Regions from separate parts of the Homo sapiens genome. Here region 2 is linked to region 1. The links come from fine-mapping of genetic effects on gene expression. Tissue or cell type: esophagus mucosa. Region 1 holds a variant in brackets; the other region holds the start of a gene. All regions are shown on one strand. Distances are between the middles of the regions.

What was found. PIP is the estimated chance that this variant, and not a neighbour inherited with it, causes the effect.
Region 2: it holds the start of PPM1K-DT, and the variant in region 1 is fine-mapped to the expression of PPM1K-DT in esophagus mucosa (GTEx, PIP above 0.99).

The regions. Positions count from the first base shown.
Region 1 is chr4:88,314,216-88,322,404 of GRCh38, forward strand. PPM1K-DT (PPM1K divergent transcript) reads left to right here. Exons shown (of 5, transcript NR_134238.1): 3 at 2,471-2,592. Among named protein-coding and RNA genes, the nearest start is that of PPM1K-DT, 33 kb to the left of the region's middle. RefSeq lists an enhancer at 6,624-6,703. The variant G/A (reference allele first, on the strand shown) is at 4,887.
Region 2 is chr4:88,280,322-88,288,510 of GRCh38, forward strand. PPM1K-DT (PPM1K divergent transcript) reads left to right here and starts at 4,609. Exons shown (of 5, transcript NR_134238.1): 1 at 4,609-4,740. PPM1K (protein phosphatase, Mg2+/Mn2+ dependent 1K) reads right to left here and starts at 4,240. Exons shown (of 7, transcript NM_152542.5): 1 at 4,085-4,240. RefSeq lists enhancers at 4,023-4,082, 4,123-4,212, 4,125-4,648 and a silencer at 4,383-4,602.

The sequences.
Region 1 (8,189 bases):
CAGACTTTTTCTATTATATACAATATAGATAATGCAATGTGTGTTAAAATTCTTGCTTTTTAAACTTATAAATCAATATGAAAATAAGATTGATGCATAGAACAATAGAAGAGAATGTGAATAAGTAATTGTAGAAGAAGAAATATAAATGGTCAATATAAAATGAGAAGTTGCTCAACCTCATTAACAATCAATGAAGTGAGAGTTGGAACAAGACATCATTTTTGAGAGCTATAGATTGATGGATATGAAAAAGATTGATAATATCAAGGATGGCACTGCTATAAACTAGGGCTGTAAGGGCAAATTGCTGTACCCTTTTAAGGGGACAGTAGCAATATGTAACAACCGTTAAAATGCACAGACCTTTTGCATTATGTTTAACTTTGTATACCTGCAGTGATAGCATTGTTATGTTAGATAGTTCTTATCTTTTAGAGATAGATATTGAAATACTATGAATGAAATTTTATAATAACTTGGATTGCTTCAACATAGGCTGCTGAGGGTCAGGCGCAGTGACTCACACCTGTAATCCCAGCACTTTGGGAGGCTGAGGCAGGCGGATCACTTGAGGTCAGGAGTTCAAGACCAGCCTGGCCCACATGGTAAAACCCTATCTCTACTAAAAACACAAAAATCAGCTGGGCTTGGTGGTGCGCACCTGTAATCCCAGCTACTCAGGAGGCAGAGGCACAAGAATCACTGGAACCTGGGAGGCGGAGGTTGCAGTGAGCCGAGATCATGCCCCTGGCACTCCAGCCTGGATGACAGAGTGAGATTCTGTCTCAAAAAACAAAAAACGCTGGTGAGTAGGTGAGGGGAAAGTAGGTAAGAGTACAGATGAAAGACGTGTGGCCATGAGTTCATGTTTGTTGCATCTGGGTGATGGATGAGTACATTGGAATTATTATACTGTTCTCTTTACTTCTATGTTTTAAAAAAACTTTTACAGAATAAAATGTTGAGGAAGAAAAATAAAAACTTGCAATTAAATTTTAACACAGCATTTATTTTTGAGAAAATTTATCCTAAGGAGAGGATCAACTAAGTGGGCAAAGATATAGCTACAAAAAGATTCAACATAACTTTCTAATTAAAGCTTCAATCTGGGCATTGAGCTCTTTTTTATCTGAGCAAAGAACTAGTTTGATGAGATCCTGAACAGTCAACAAACTGGTGACTCTGGCTCAGGAGAAGACATGCATTTCATATTAAAGGTCAAACACCCACAGCCCAATCACTTTTTGATAAGTAATATCCAGCAAATGACACCAATTTTAGCTACCTAATAAGATGAATCTTAAGTGAACTCTAAAGAAAGATACGGTGTTCAGAGTTACATACAGTGAAATTATAAAACTAAGTATAGCAGGTCCTTGAATAACATTTTTTTTCAATGTCATTGTGTTATGACATTGATAAGGAAAAAAAAAATCAATTCCCAGCTGGGCCACTGTTTGTGTGAAGTTTACACATTCTCCCCACGTCTGTGTGGGTTTCCTCTGGCTACTCAGTTCCTTTCCACACCCCAAAGATGTGCACATTAGGTGAGTGGATGTGTCTAAATGTCCTAATCTGAGTGTGGGTGTGTGTGTGAGTGTGCCCCGTGATGGAATGGTGTCCTGCCTGTCCAGCGTTGATTTCCACTTCTCGCCCTGAGCTGCTGAGATAGGTTCCAGCTACCCAAGACCCTGAACTGGAATAAGCAGGTTGGAAGATAAGTGAAAACAAGTTATTATAAAATAAATATTCATAAAGTATATGGTAATCATACAAACACACAACAATAAATGATGTGGTATGAAAGTGCTCAGTGAGCCTGCTATATTCGTTATTGTTTGTTTTTTAACTGTGTAGTGGTAGGAGGAGCCTCTTACTAATTTTGCTTTGCAAATACTTTTGATTTAACCACCACCACTACTATTGCTGTCACTCACTGACTGACCAAAAATCAGGTAAATAAATAAATATCTTACTTGTTTTTATTTACCTGTCTTATCTTTAAACATTTATTTATTTTAATGTTTAATATTAGAAGTGTTTTAGGTCTTTATTTAGAAGTTTGGTAATGTTTCTATGACCAGAAATATGCCATAGAAACATAACTCTTGTTTGTATCAATTAGCCTATGGTAAAATTGGTTTCATTATACATTATTTTGCTTAAAGTTGAAGTTCCCAATAACATATTGGTGACATTAAGTGAGGACTTACTGTACAGAAAATTTGCTCAGTTTTACGTGGGAGTATTCTTTTTTTTTTTTTTTTTTGAGACAGGATCTCACTGTATCACCTGGGCTGGAGTGCAGGGGTGAGATCATAGCTCACTTCAGTCTTGAACTTCTGGGTTCAAGCAATCCTCCTGCACTGGCTATCCAAGTAGCTAGAACTATAGGTGTACACCACCACATTTGGCTGACTTTTCTTATTTTTTTATTTATTCATTTATTTGTTTATTTATTTTTTAGAGCTAAGGTCTTGCTATGTTGCCTAGACTGGTTTTGAACTCCTGGGCTGAAGCAATCCTCCCACTTCGGCCTCTCAAAGTGCTGGGATATCAGACATGAGCCACCTGCCATGCTTGGCCTATGTGAGTATTCTTAGTTGTCATTATTTACATTGTACTATAGACTAAATGTTTGTGTCCCCTCTAAATTCGTATGTTGAAATCCTAACCCCCAATGTGATGGTATTAGCAGGTGGGGGCCTTTTGTAGCTGATTAGTTCGTGAGGGTGGAGCGCCCATGAATAGGATTAGTGCCCTGATGAAAGAGACCCCAAGGAGCTTTCTCATCAACTTTCTGCCATGAGAGAAAACTGGGAACTAGGAAGCAGGTTCTCACTAGACATCAAATCTGCCAGTACCTTGATCTTGGACTTCCCAGCCTCCAGAACTGTCCCCCTTAGTCATCCCACAGTGGTGAGCACCTAAGGTGACTTAACAACAGTTTTGTACTTTGTATCAGATGCACAAATGCATTCTCACTTGCCCTTTGTGTGTGTGAGTGCATTTCTATCTTCTTTTATGTTCTCTTTTTATTATACTTATGTTCATTTCACAATTCTTTTTTTTGTTTTTAAGAGAGTTGGGGGCCAGGCACGGTGGCTCACACCTGTAATCCCAGCACTTTGGGAAGCCAAGGCAGGTGGATTACCTGAGGTCAGGAGTTCAAGACCAGCCTGGCCAAGATGGCAAAACCCCATGTCTCTACTAAAAAAAAAAAATACAAAAATTAGCTGGGCCTGGTGGCAGTTGCCTGTAATCCCAGCTACTCCAGATAAGTCACAAACTCTGAAAAGTCAACAAACTGGTAACTCTGGCTCAGAAGAAGGCATGCATTTCATACTTAAGGGTCAAATACCCACAGCCCAATCACTTTTTGATAAATGACATATCCAGCAAATGTTACCAATTTTAGCTACCTAATAAGATGAATCCTCAAGAGGCGGAGGCAGGAGAATCACTTGAACCTGGGAGGCAGAGGTTGCAGTGAGCCAAGACTATGCCACTGCACTCCAGCCTGGGCAACAAAGTGAGACTCTATCTCCAAAAAAAAAAAAAAAAAAAGAGAGAGCGAGAGATGGGGGTCTCACTCACTCTGTCACTCAGGCTGGAGTGCTGTGATGCAATCATAGCTCACTGCAACTTCAAACTTCTAAACTCAAGCAATCCTCCCAATTCAGCCTACTGAGTACCTGGAACACAAGGCACACTCTACCACCTCTGGCCAATTTTTGAATTTTTTGTAGAGACACCATCTAGCTATGATTCCCAGTCTGGTCTCAAACTCCTGGCCTCAAGCAATCCTCCTGCCTCAGCCTCTTGAGTAGCTGGGATTACAGTCATGAGCCACTGTGCCCACTTGAATCTTTATTGAGTGCTTATTCCTCAAGAAATGCTATAACAAATGTTAGAAATTAAATGGTGAGTCAAAACAAAGTCCCTGTCTTTCCTGGGGTTTACAGTAATACTCTCTCCATGAACATCAACAACAACAGTAACTAATACACATAATTACATTTATTGATTAATTGAATGCTCACATACACATAAAGATATCATTGTCATTATTTTGTCAAGGGGGAAAGGGAGGCACAGAGAGCATAAGGAATTTGCCCAGAGTCATATGCTCTAGTGGTGGAGCCTGTATACTGTTTGTCTCTCCTTTACTATATTTACTCTCCCATGAATTGTAAACCAAAAATAAAATTCTAAGGCACCACAACCATCTGAATGGGCCCCTCCTCTCAGCCAGGGGCATTCCAAAGCTAACCTGAAAAAAATGAGTTCAGGCCATGATGAGAAAAGGGAGCCAAAATGCCTCATTATACCCTCCTCCCTTTTGGAATTACTGATATAAGAGGCTCTTTAAGTCTGATAAGAAATATTTACAATCTATTCTCTCTCAAATCTGCTACCTGGAGGCTTTATCTGCATGATAAAACCTTGGTCTCCACAACCCTTATCATAATCCAGACATTCCTTTCTATTGATAATAACACTTTCAACCAATTGCCAATCAGAAAATCTTTGAACCTGCCTGTGACGTGGAAGCCCCCAATTCCAGTTGTTCCACCTTTCTGAACTGAACCATTGTACATCTTACATGTATTAATTGATGTCTCATGTCTCCCTAAAATGTATAAAACAAAGCTGTGGCCCAACCACCTTGAGCTTATGTTTTCAGGATCTTTTGAGGCTGTGTCATGGGCCATTAGTCACTCATAACTGGCTCAGAATAAATCTCTTCAAATATTTTACAGAGTTTGACTGTTTTCATCGACACAATGTAAATATCATCTGAGATGTTATACTAACCCATTTATTTATTATTCACTCACTACATCGTTATTAAACATCTTTGATGTGCCAGGCATGTGGGG[G/A]TGGCTCTGGGCAAACAAAGAAATATGCTCAGTCCCTGTCATTGAGTGAGGCCCATAAACACATAATTCCAGCACAACCTGTTATGTGAAAAGACAAGGTATATATCAAGTGAAATGTAAACAAAGGAGGAAATGACTAACTTTGCTTGGGATTGCTGAGAAAGACTTTGTAGAAGAGAAGATTTTTTATCAGTGTCATGAAGGCTTAATAGCAACTGATTTGTTAAAGAATCATGAAAAGATCAACCCCAAGAAAGAAAAGGAAACATGGAAGGACCTGGACTGGAGTCACGCCAGTACAAGGAGGATACTGGCAAAGATGAGGTAGGTGGATGGGAAATAGCAGGACTTGAGGGTAAGACATTGAGTTGAAAACAAAATAATGGTTATTGATCAAACGCAGTGGGGCTTAGGCTGGGGAGTAATGCATATGGATCTGGTGCCATTTTGAAGGACATTGTTGAAGGCAAGGGAAAGCGTCCCCTTCACTCTCTGAAGGTTTGCTGAAAATATTTAACAAGAAGACGATTAATAGGAGAAAAGGCATACAAATTTATTTGATCATAGTTTTTCATGACACAGGGGCCTTCAAAATGAAAGCCCTCCACCTCGAGGTTACAGAAAGAATATGGATTCAGAGCACAGCCAAAAACAGGCTATGGTGGTAAACTAGGCTTTAGTGGCAAAACAGGTTATGAGAGAGACAGAACAGGAGGCCTGCCTAGCAAAGTTGGCCTTATTATATAGATGAAACCTCATGGGTAGCAGACAGAATAGATGACAAATTCTTCTTACCTTTACCAAATTCTCTCACCTCTAAAGGTGTCAGACTCTTAATCTTTCCTAGATCTGACAAGGGAATCCTGGCTGCATGAATATAGATTCTCTACAGATGTAAATTTCCCCCAGGAAAGACAGCTTTGTAGGGCCAATTCCGTTTGCTGGCCCTCTGGCAGTCATCTCAAAGTATATCAAAGAAATATATTTTGGGGTAAAATATCTTGATTTCCTTCCACATCGAGGATGAAAGTTGCTGAAGAAAGGAAAAAAATGTTGGTAGCTCTTGCAGTGATCTAAGCAAAAATTGAGGCACTGGAGAGGAGACTTATTGAGGGGTATGAATCAACAGAGCTTGATTAAGTCTAGGGGTTAAAGGAGTGATTGGGTGACTGAGTGGATAATGGTAACAATCAAAATAGTATCTCAAATTCTACAAGATTCCTTTTGAGCTAGAGTTTGCTCAAAGTACATTCAAAGCAGCACCTGTTGAACTCTGACAGCCCAGAAAAACAATAGCTAACTCACGCATGGCTAAATAGCTCTTAGAATCATAGTGAGTCATTGTTTTGGTTATATTAATGGATTAATTCAGTTAATCCTCACAAAAACCTCATAAAGTAGGCAGGACCATATTCCATTTTACAAATGAGGAGATCAGTTCAGGAAATTAGAACAGAGAGGTGAACTAACTTAACCAAGGTGATATAGCCACTAAGTGTTGGAGTCTGACTTCAAACACAGTCAGTTTTTATACTGCCTTGTTTGAAGCCTGGGGTGAAGATGGAGGTGGAGTGCTGTCCTGGGAGTGGGGCTGAGGGATGCAGCACTTTACAAGGGCAAAGTTTCCTACAAATCACCTTTAAACATCTTTCTTCCTTCTCAAAGTTCACACTCACCCTGGCTGCCAAGTGCTCCCTGCTCCTCGGGGCTATTGCTGTGCTGTTCTTGAGAGCTTCCTCCTTCCACCAGACAGTTTCTGTTCCCCTTAGTTCTGAGAAATGTGGCCGTCCTGGCCTAGCACCCTCCTAGGAGAAGTGAAGTCCCCTGCAGATCTTTCTGTTTGTTTGTTTTTCTGGAGCAAACAAGCCCTGCTTTCAATTCAGGGAAAGGTGGAAGGAGAACAGAGGTCTGGGAATGTGAAGAAGCTAAGACAGTGGATTTGATTGGGCACTTGTTTTGTTTGTGGTGTCTCAGGGATATTCAACTGAAAAGAGAAACCACAGAGATAGGAAGCCAGAAGAGGTTTGAAATTCTTTTGAAATACTTACTAAATATTTGCTTTCAGACACTTTGCAGGAGTATTCAAACAGCATCTCCCTGTATGTTGGAAAGCAGCCCGTGTACACAGCTAAATATTTTTTCTAAATAATCTTGAAAAGGAAACTAAACCAATCATGCATCACTGACAAAGATTTTGTCTTTTTTTTTTTTGAGACAGAGTCTCGCTGTGTCACCCAGGCTGGAGTGCGGTGGCATGATTTCAGCTCACTGCAACCTCCACCTCCCGGGTTCAGGCGATTCTCCTGCCTCAGCCTCCTGAGTAGCTGAGATTACAGGTGCATGCCACCACACCCGTCTAATTTTTGTATTTTTAGTAAAGATGGGGTTTTACCATGTTGGTCAGGCTGGTCTTGAACTCCTGACCTCGTGATCTGCCTGCCTCGGCTTCCCAAAGTACTGGGATTACAGGCGTGAGCCACTGCGCTTGGCCTGTCTTTTTTTTTTTTTTTAATAGGATCTGTTCTAAAAGTAATTTATGATTTGCATTCTGAAACTTGCCATCTAGTCAAGTTTAAAGACCCATGTAGGAACAAATATCATAAAAGTACAAAAAATTGATCATCATATGTATGTAAATGTTGTAATTTTTAAAAAGTCTTCGTGATAATGAAAAGAATCCATGTTGACTATAGCAAACATAAAATACAGAATTTAAAAAATTCCTCTTACTGTCACATATAAGCACCATTAACATTTTGGATGTATTCTCTTCCAGACTTCCTGCAATCTCTTTCTTTCTTTTTGATTACTATATTTCTTTATATTTTATTACTACGGTTGTTGCTAGTTTTCCATTTCAAACATAGCTATTTTCTCTACATAATGCATAACCTGCTATTTAAAAAAAAAACAAACTTTGTTTAAAAATGTACAAAATTAACACATTCTCATCCAAAAAAGAGGTCTTGCAGTGAAAAAGCATATAGGGTCAAAATGATATGTTTCCCTGGTCCCATTCCCCAAGGTAGCCTCAAGCAACAGTTTGATGAAGTTCACAAGTTTTTCCAAAAGCAAAGCCATTCTTGAGGTAAATTTTTCCTCCTCATGTCTATAATCTACATTAATATAAACATATTTTCTCTAGTGTTGTGATCTAGTGTTTTTTTTCCTAACGGTGTTTCAGACAGCTTTTTCACGTCGACCTAAAAGGAAGAGGCCTAACACCAAATACGATTTTAAAAGTTTACTTGAGCCAAAGTGGGAAGAGCTGCCTGGAAGACTCAGACCCAGGTAGCCTTGGTT
Region 2 (8,189 bases), 34 kb before region 1:
AAGTAATGTATCATCAAAGACTTAGGAAGTCATCCCTTCTTGGCCTTTTGGCCAAGATCCTGCATAGAAGGCTGAAATTCATTTCTTCGTAAGACAACATTGTTGGGGGGTTGGAGAGTGGCAGAGACACAGCATCTCTGGTTATCAAAGAGAATTAACATGGCCGGACCCGGTGGCTCACACTTGTAATCCCAGCACTTTGAGAGGCCGAGGTAGGCAAATCACTTGAGGCCAAGAGTTGGAGACCAGTGGGCAACTTTGCAAAACCCTGTCTCCACTAAAAATACAAAAATTAGTCAGGCGTGGTTCCGCATGCCTGTAGTTCCAGCTACTAAGGGGGCTGAGGTGGGAGGACTGCTTGAGCCCAGGAGTTTGAGACTACCCTGGGCAACATGGTGAAACCCTGTCTCTACAAAAAGTACAAAAATGAGGTGGACAGATTGCTTGAGCCTGGGAGGCAGAGGCTGCAGTGAGCTAAGATCACACCACTGCACTCCAGCCTGAGCAATGGAGCAAGACATTGTCTATTTAAAAAAAGAGAGAGAGAGCGAGAGAGAGAAATAACACATTCCATTGCAAGAGATGTTTGTTCTTTTGCTTCTAATTGAGAGTTAGATTTTATTCAGCAACAATTATGGATTCAAGCCAGCAATGGTGTGTTAAAAAAAATTTAAAAACCCAATTATGTTAATTATAGGTGATGAATTGAGACTTCAAACTACAATACAATCTACCAGGTAATGGAAGTACTAATTATTTGGAGATAATTCCCAAAGCAGCTTTATATCATATAGAAAAAAAAAAGAACTTTAAAGAAATACAATTATTAGAAAATATTTGTATTTGAAGAGTTAACTTGAGATTAGCAAAATACTATTCTTTTGGCTTCGGTCTGAAAGTATATATGCCATATTCAGCCTTGAGCTACTTTGCAGTCATGCACCTACTTTAAATCAGAGTTCTGGAATTACAAATAAATAAATATTGAAGTTTTTCTGCAACTGTTCTAGTATATTCTTGCCGTTTTATCTCCTCTTTATCCTCCCCCCAATTTTTTTTTAAATAATAAAATAGAACTGCATTCTCACAGAGAACAAATATCCACTGGAAACATTTTTAAGAAATGAGATAAAATGCAAATTGAGCAGTTTCTGTAAGGCTAAAAACCTGCGTATTTTAAAATCAATCATCAACCTGGCATCCTTCCTCGTGTATTGTTTCTATAATCATCTCAGAAAGCAGGCAGTCATAGGAAACCACCTACTTTAAGGCATATTATTGGCAGAGATGAAATGTGACCCAGATATATAGCTAGTTTATAAAAAACAAACAAACAGGTCGGCATCGCTTAGGTAAACGAGATGTTACGAACTGGCTCCATGTCCTTTTCCATCTGCAATGTAACTAAATCATATCAATCCCCTCCATATTCCCTAAGAAACAATTCAAAGGCAGCTGGAGTTCCCAAAGTAAATAACAACTTTGAATTAAACCTGCACATTAAGAAAAGTTTCCTCCTCCAGAACTCCACAATTGGGATCTGCCATCATAGACCCCACAGCTCTGCCGATGCCCATGGGAATGACTATGCTTTGACCAGCAAGGCAAGGGGAGTAGAACTTGTGATGTGAAAAACAAAAACCTTAAGGAAAAAAAAAAAGCAATCAGTGTTCTCTAAACAAAAAGAGTGGAGAACAAACTAGCAAACACCTAAGGATTGTCTTTTGTCAGTTCAGCAATTAAAAATTGGGATGAGTTCATTATTCCACAAACTAAGAGAGAGAAGGAATCTTTTTAAGTAAGCAGGGGAGATTTAGGTCAATTTTTTGATCGGAAAACATGGCTAGTTTATTTTTATAAACCATTTTAACATTATATTCAATCTTTGGAAGTCAAGTCATCCAAAAGGAAAGCACTTTCTCTGGCAGGAAGGTGCACTGGATTTGAGTTAAACTGTTCTTGTATGTTAAAAGCAGGTCAAAAGGGCAGTTTAAGCACATGCCAAAATTATTCAGGAGTTCTAAAGTTCTGAAACCTGCTTAGATTTTATCCCTCTAGAAAAAATATTTTAAGAAAGCATTCCTATCTGCCCATTATGAAGTGGCATTTAGGTATCTACAACTTCCACAATGAGAACACAGCCCTTTTAAATATTCTTAAACCAAATATTTACCTATCGACCTTTTTAGAAAATCAATTAAGGCATCCCAGTAAATTCAAATAGTATGGAAATTTCCAGAATGTATTTCAGCTAATTGGGACCCCAATACCTTCTTTCTCAATACCCTGCTAGGAGGAAGGGAAAGAAAATTTACTGCTTTACCTGAGGGGAAAAAAGAAAACAACAATAAAAACTCCAAAGGACTCCCCTTAGGTTTAATGTGAATATGTCTATGTTCAGATGTGTGACTGGAGAAAAGTGTGAAATGTGAGCAGTGAAAAGTACTCAGTATTCTATTCCCATAGATATCTTTTAAGACACGTTAGTAAATATGCATACAAGCCACAGACTATATCCCAAACCTGTAACTTTATAATGCCTTTAAGAACTTTCCTTCACAGTCTATTATGTCACCAGCCACTCTCCTCTCTTCTTTCCTCGTCTCTAAGGATTGCAGTCAAGGAATTTGCCTGGGTGATCAGTAGTAATGACTAAGGTTGCAAGAAAAAATTATTAGCGAGAACTCACTACTCAAATATTGTAACTAAGGTATTTTATCAGACACACACACACGCACGTGCTGCTCTTCTTCCTGCCACAGCTGCCTAACCAGAACACCACAAACCATGGCTGTTTTTCTTTTTCTTTCTGAGACAGGGTCTTGCTCTGTCGCCCAGGCTGGAGTGCAGTGGTGCGATCTCGGCTCACTGCAGCCTCGACCACTCAGGATCAAGAGATCCTCCCACCTCAGCCTCCGGGGCTGGGACCACAGGCACATGCCACCACGCCCGGGTAATTTTTGTATGTTTTGTAGAGCCGAGGTTTCGATGTGTTGCCCAGGCTGGTCTCGAACTCCTGGGCTCAAGCCCGCTTTGGCCTTCCAAAGTGCTGTGATCACAGGCGTGAGCCATTGCTACCGGTCTCATTGCTCTTTTTCATCGTCATTGTAATCTGTCACTTTAGTCGCTCATTCTGAAACCGAAGGACAGCCTCATTCCTCCGCCCTGACGGAAAGAACCGATGAGGCCTTGCTGCACGTTAGCAGTGGGAGGCTCAGAAAAGCCCGTGGAGCTTTTGAGACTGCAAATTCCCTGGCTATTTCCACCTGGAGCCTCTTTGTCACATCCGGTGAATTCCCTCATCTACAGAAAGCGGCTGCTGAAAAAGACATCACCAGCTACAACGCCTTGAGTACTACAGCGCTCCCTGCGCAAAGTAAAACCCAAGTCTTCGGATCAAAACCAGCCGGGGCTGTGCATCCTTCACGATGCCGGACCTCCTGAAAAGCTCACCTGGGTACAGCTCAGGATCCTGGCCTCGGCTCGCTGGCCCTGACAGGCGGGTGGTCAGGGTGACACACGGTGGGAAGAACACACGCCCGCCTGCCTGCGAAGCCTCGCAAATAGCTGGGCTCCCTCGGCACCTTCTGCCGCCAGGTCTCCGCCTCCCAACCTCCCTCTGGGCGTACCGAGCCCGTTGTCGCCACGTTTCCCTCGCCCGGGAGGCAACGCGGCACCCACCCCGCAGCATCCTCGCTTCCGGGGCCTCGGGCAAGGGTCTCCAGTCCCAGCCCACCCACCCTGCCCGCCTCGCGCCGCGCTGGCCCTCCAGCCTGCGGCCACATTCAAGGCCGAGCGCAGTCTGGGCTGGAAACCCGCCGCCCGGGGCGCAGGCAGCCCAGCTGGGCCCCGCCTCACCCCGACGAGCTGCTCACGACCTCCAAAGGGAAGAAAGCGACGCTCTGAGAACTCCGAGAGGCCGCCGGCCAAGCGCCGACTCGGGGGGCGGGGGAACGGAAACCGACGTCTCCCCTTCGACCTCCCGGGAAACCCTTCTCCGTTTACTCTCCATTCCGCGACCGCCAATAAAGAACAGCATACATGGTTAGCAGAAATAAATGAATTGCACTCTCTAGGCTCTTACCTCTGGATGGCTACGTCCCTGAAAAATGTTTTAATTAGCTAACGGAGGACGGGGGAGGAGCTTTCTTGGTCGGTAAATAAGAGTGCCTTCTCCGTCGTCTCGGATCTCCGAAGCAAGCAGTCAAAGCGGCCACTGCCTTGCCTGCTGGAAATTCTCGAAAATTTTTCTCCCGCAGTTGACCAGATGGAGAGGGAGAAGTCTGTTCCCGCTGACTGACAGCAGATCCGGCCAGTCCGCACTCGGCGAGACGGCTGGCCGGCCGCCCGGGCCCTCGATCGCAGCCAGTCACAGATGCCGATGGGAACGAGCCTCCCCGCGGCTGCTATTTGACTTCGCAGGCTTCCAGCTGCGCGGCGGAGCGACGTCACCCTGTGCCAGTGGTGGCTCGCGGCGGCGCCCCGCCCTCCCGAGGTTAGCTCCCCAGCCAAAGAGGGGGCGCGCTTGCGCGGTGGGTGGGGCCGCGAGACTTGGTACCTAGCCAGCGGGCGGAGCGCGGAGGGGGTTTCGCTTCGGGCTAAGGGACTGTAGTTGTGACAGCCAGGAAACCGAGAACGGAATGCCAATACTGCTTAGGCTTAGAGTTTGAAAGGCATCTGATTTCACTGCCATGTCTTTGAACAGCAGTGCACAGTGCAGTCTTCTTCGTGGCTGAACAGGTATCTTGTGATCTTTAGGGAATGTCTATTAATTCATTAAACAAGTATTTCTGTGTTTATTGAAGGACGTCTTGTATGCTATACATTTGCTAGGCACTGGGGATACGCCCCTAACACAGCTAGACACGATAGCTGCCCTCATAGAATTTTCAGTCTAACAAAGAAGAGGGAGAAAACCAACAAGTAAGCAAGCACATAGAATAGTAATTAATCATGTCAAGGAAAGAAATAGGCATGGTGTGGACACTGGAGGATAACTTCAGATAAGATTGTTATATGAGAACTTTATAAGATGGCATTTAAACCATCAGTCATTCAGCCATGGAACCAATAAAATGATGAATTGTTTTGGGCAGAGGGGACAGCAGACAAAGGTCTCTCGGTGAGACAGCCCGGCGTTTTGGAAGAACAGAAAGAAAGCCAAAGTGTCTCCAGCATATTGAGGGAGGGAAAGAACAGCATGATGTGAGAGAGATGAGGCAGACAGGGGCTTGGAGTTGGCATTACATTTTAAATTTAATGGGCTTCTATTGAGGCATTCGAAAAAAAGAAGTGAAAGGGTCTGGGTTTAGACTTTACATCACTTTGGTTAGTGTGCAAAGAACAGTTAAAATAAGCTATTGGGAAACTGATTAGGAGATGATGACAGATGAAATTTAAGGTGGAAGATGACTTTGATTAAACTATGACAATATCACTGAAGGGAGAGAAGAGCAGAGAGATTAGAGATTTTAAAGATAAATAATTAACTTGATTTGGCATTTTAGTTATTCTAGGCCAGGGACAACTGTTTTGAATCCAGTGCATTTAATAACCAGGTTAGAGAGTGACTCTCATATTGACGGCTCACAAATTATAGTAATAACCTTGAGTAATATTATGTTGAGTTGATGTCTTTTCATAGACTTCCTGGATTTTTTTTTCTTTTGTCTTTCTTTCTTTTTTTTTTTTTTTTTTTTTTTTTTTTGAGACAGGGTTTTACTCCTGCCCAGGCTGGAGTGCAGTGGCGCTATCTGAGCTCACTGAAACCTCTGCTTCCCAGGCTCAAGTGATCCTCCCACTTCAGCCTCCCAAGTAGCTGTGACTACAGGCACGCTCAACCATACACAGCTAATGTTTATATTTTTTGTAGAGATGGGGCTTCCCCATGTTGCCCAGGCTGGTCTTGAACTCCTGAACTCAAGCAATCCACCCACCTCAGCCTCCCAAAGTGCTGGGATTACAGGCATGAGCCACTGTACCTGGCGTGGAATTTAAAAAAATAATAATTTTATTGAAACATGTGTCTTAAAAAGTGCACATATCCTAAGTGTAGACAGCTCAATGAATTTTCACAGTCTGCAGACACCTTTGTATCCAGCACCCAGATCAAGGAACAAAACATTATTAATACCTGGGAACCCCATCAACCTGCCTTCCAGGCACTGCCTTCTTCCAAGGGGAGTTTCTATGCTGACTTTCAACAGCATAGGTAGTTTTGCCTATCTTTATACTTGTTATATATAAAGCCATAAAGTATGTGTTCTTTTGTTTCTGGCTACTTGGACTCAACATTACACTTGTGAGATTCTTCCATATTGTTGTATGCAGTTGTAGATCATTCATTTTGTTTTCCATTCTGTGGATATACTGTAATTTATGAATTCATTCTTCTGATGGACATTAGGGCAGTTTGCCATTTAGAGCCATTATAGATAGTGCTACTATGAGCATTCTACTACATATCTGTTGGTGATGGCTTTCATTTGATGGAGTATTTTGGTAGCTAAGTTACTATTAAGTTTTTAAAAATCTGCTCATCAATAATGTAGTATCATGTGTTGCAATATCTCAATCATTTGGATCAAAATTTGGTGCAGATAATGAGGACTTTGCTTTCACAAATGTGAAAAATTTTGGTAACAAGAAAGATGTGGGAAATTTTAAGCTTGGAAGTGTAAAATATTTTGAATTGTCCTGGAGTTTTGACCTTTTTTATAACCACTTGCATGCCCAGCATCTGAGAACATCATGACTTTGCTAAATCCTTGTACCAAAACAGACTGGAATCCAGAGTCACATGATAAGCAAAGCCACTTAGGCTGTTCTGAAGAATATCTTTGATACTAAAACAGTCCTTGAAATTGCCTTTGAAAATCACACCATTTCACACTCTACCACAGCTCATTAAAATTAAAGCCAGCAGTTTACTTCTTTTGAATTATATGCTTCTGGGTTTTGAATCTCTGAAGCATAGCTAAATACACCACAAAAATAATTCATGGCCAGCACAGTGGTTCATGCCTGTAATCCCAGCACTTTGAGAGGCCAAGGCTGCCAATCACTTGAGCTGGGAGTTCAAGACTAGCCTGAGCAACATGTCAAAACCATGGTCTCTACAAAAAAATACAAAAATGAGCCAGGCATGGTGGCGCATACCTGTGATCCCAGCTACTCGGGAGGCTGAGGTGGGAGGATCACCTGAGCCCAGGAGGTCCAGGCTGCAGTGAACCATGATCTCACCACTGTACTCTAGCCTAGGTGACAGCACTTTGGGAGGCCGAGGCGGGTGGATCACAAGGTTAGGAGATCAAGACCATCCTGGCTAACACGGTGAAACCCCGTCTCCACTAAAAATACAAAAAATTAGCCGGCGTGGTGGCGGGCGCCTGTAGTCCCAGCTACTTGGGAGGCTGAGGCAGGAGAATGGCGTGAACCCGGGAGGCGGAGCTTGCAGTGAGCCGAGATCGCGCCACTGCACTCCAGCCTGGGCGACAGAGCAAGACTCCGTCTCAAAAAAATAAAATAAAATGCACAATTATTGGTACACCAAACCCCCATGAAATGCAGTTTATCTGTATAAGAAACCTGTTCATGTACCCCAGAACCTAAAATAAAAGCTTTTAAAATGTGAATAATGTGTAAAGGAAATCATTATTTGGTATTTGACAAAAAATTAAAAAATGGAAAAGAATTCACCACAGAGGCTGACTTGGCATGACAGATCACTGCACAATGTACAAAATAATCAAGGGGATATGGCACTCCGTACATTCATTAAGTTGAGCTACTTCTTTATTCAGTTTATATTTTATTTTATTTACTTATTTTTTTTTAGAGACAGGGTCTCCCTGTGTTTCCCAGGCTGGATTGCAGGGACTATTCACAAATGTGATAATAGTGCACTATAGCCTTGAATTCCTGGGCTCAAATGATTCTCCCGCCTCACTGGAGTAGCTAGGACTACAGGCATGCACCATTGTGCCCAGCTCAGTTTATATTTTAAAGAATTGGACCATCTGCTGAAAACCACTGGCTATCAGAAAATTACACCCAAAACAATTCACAGGGCTTTGGGTGGGTGGGTGGTATGTATAATTGCAGAATTATTAATATTCACTAATGAATCATTTGTTGTTAAAATTAGATATGGACATTTTTGTATACTCAGAATCAGCAGTTTTCTAGAA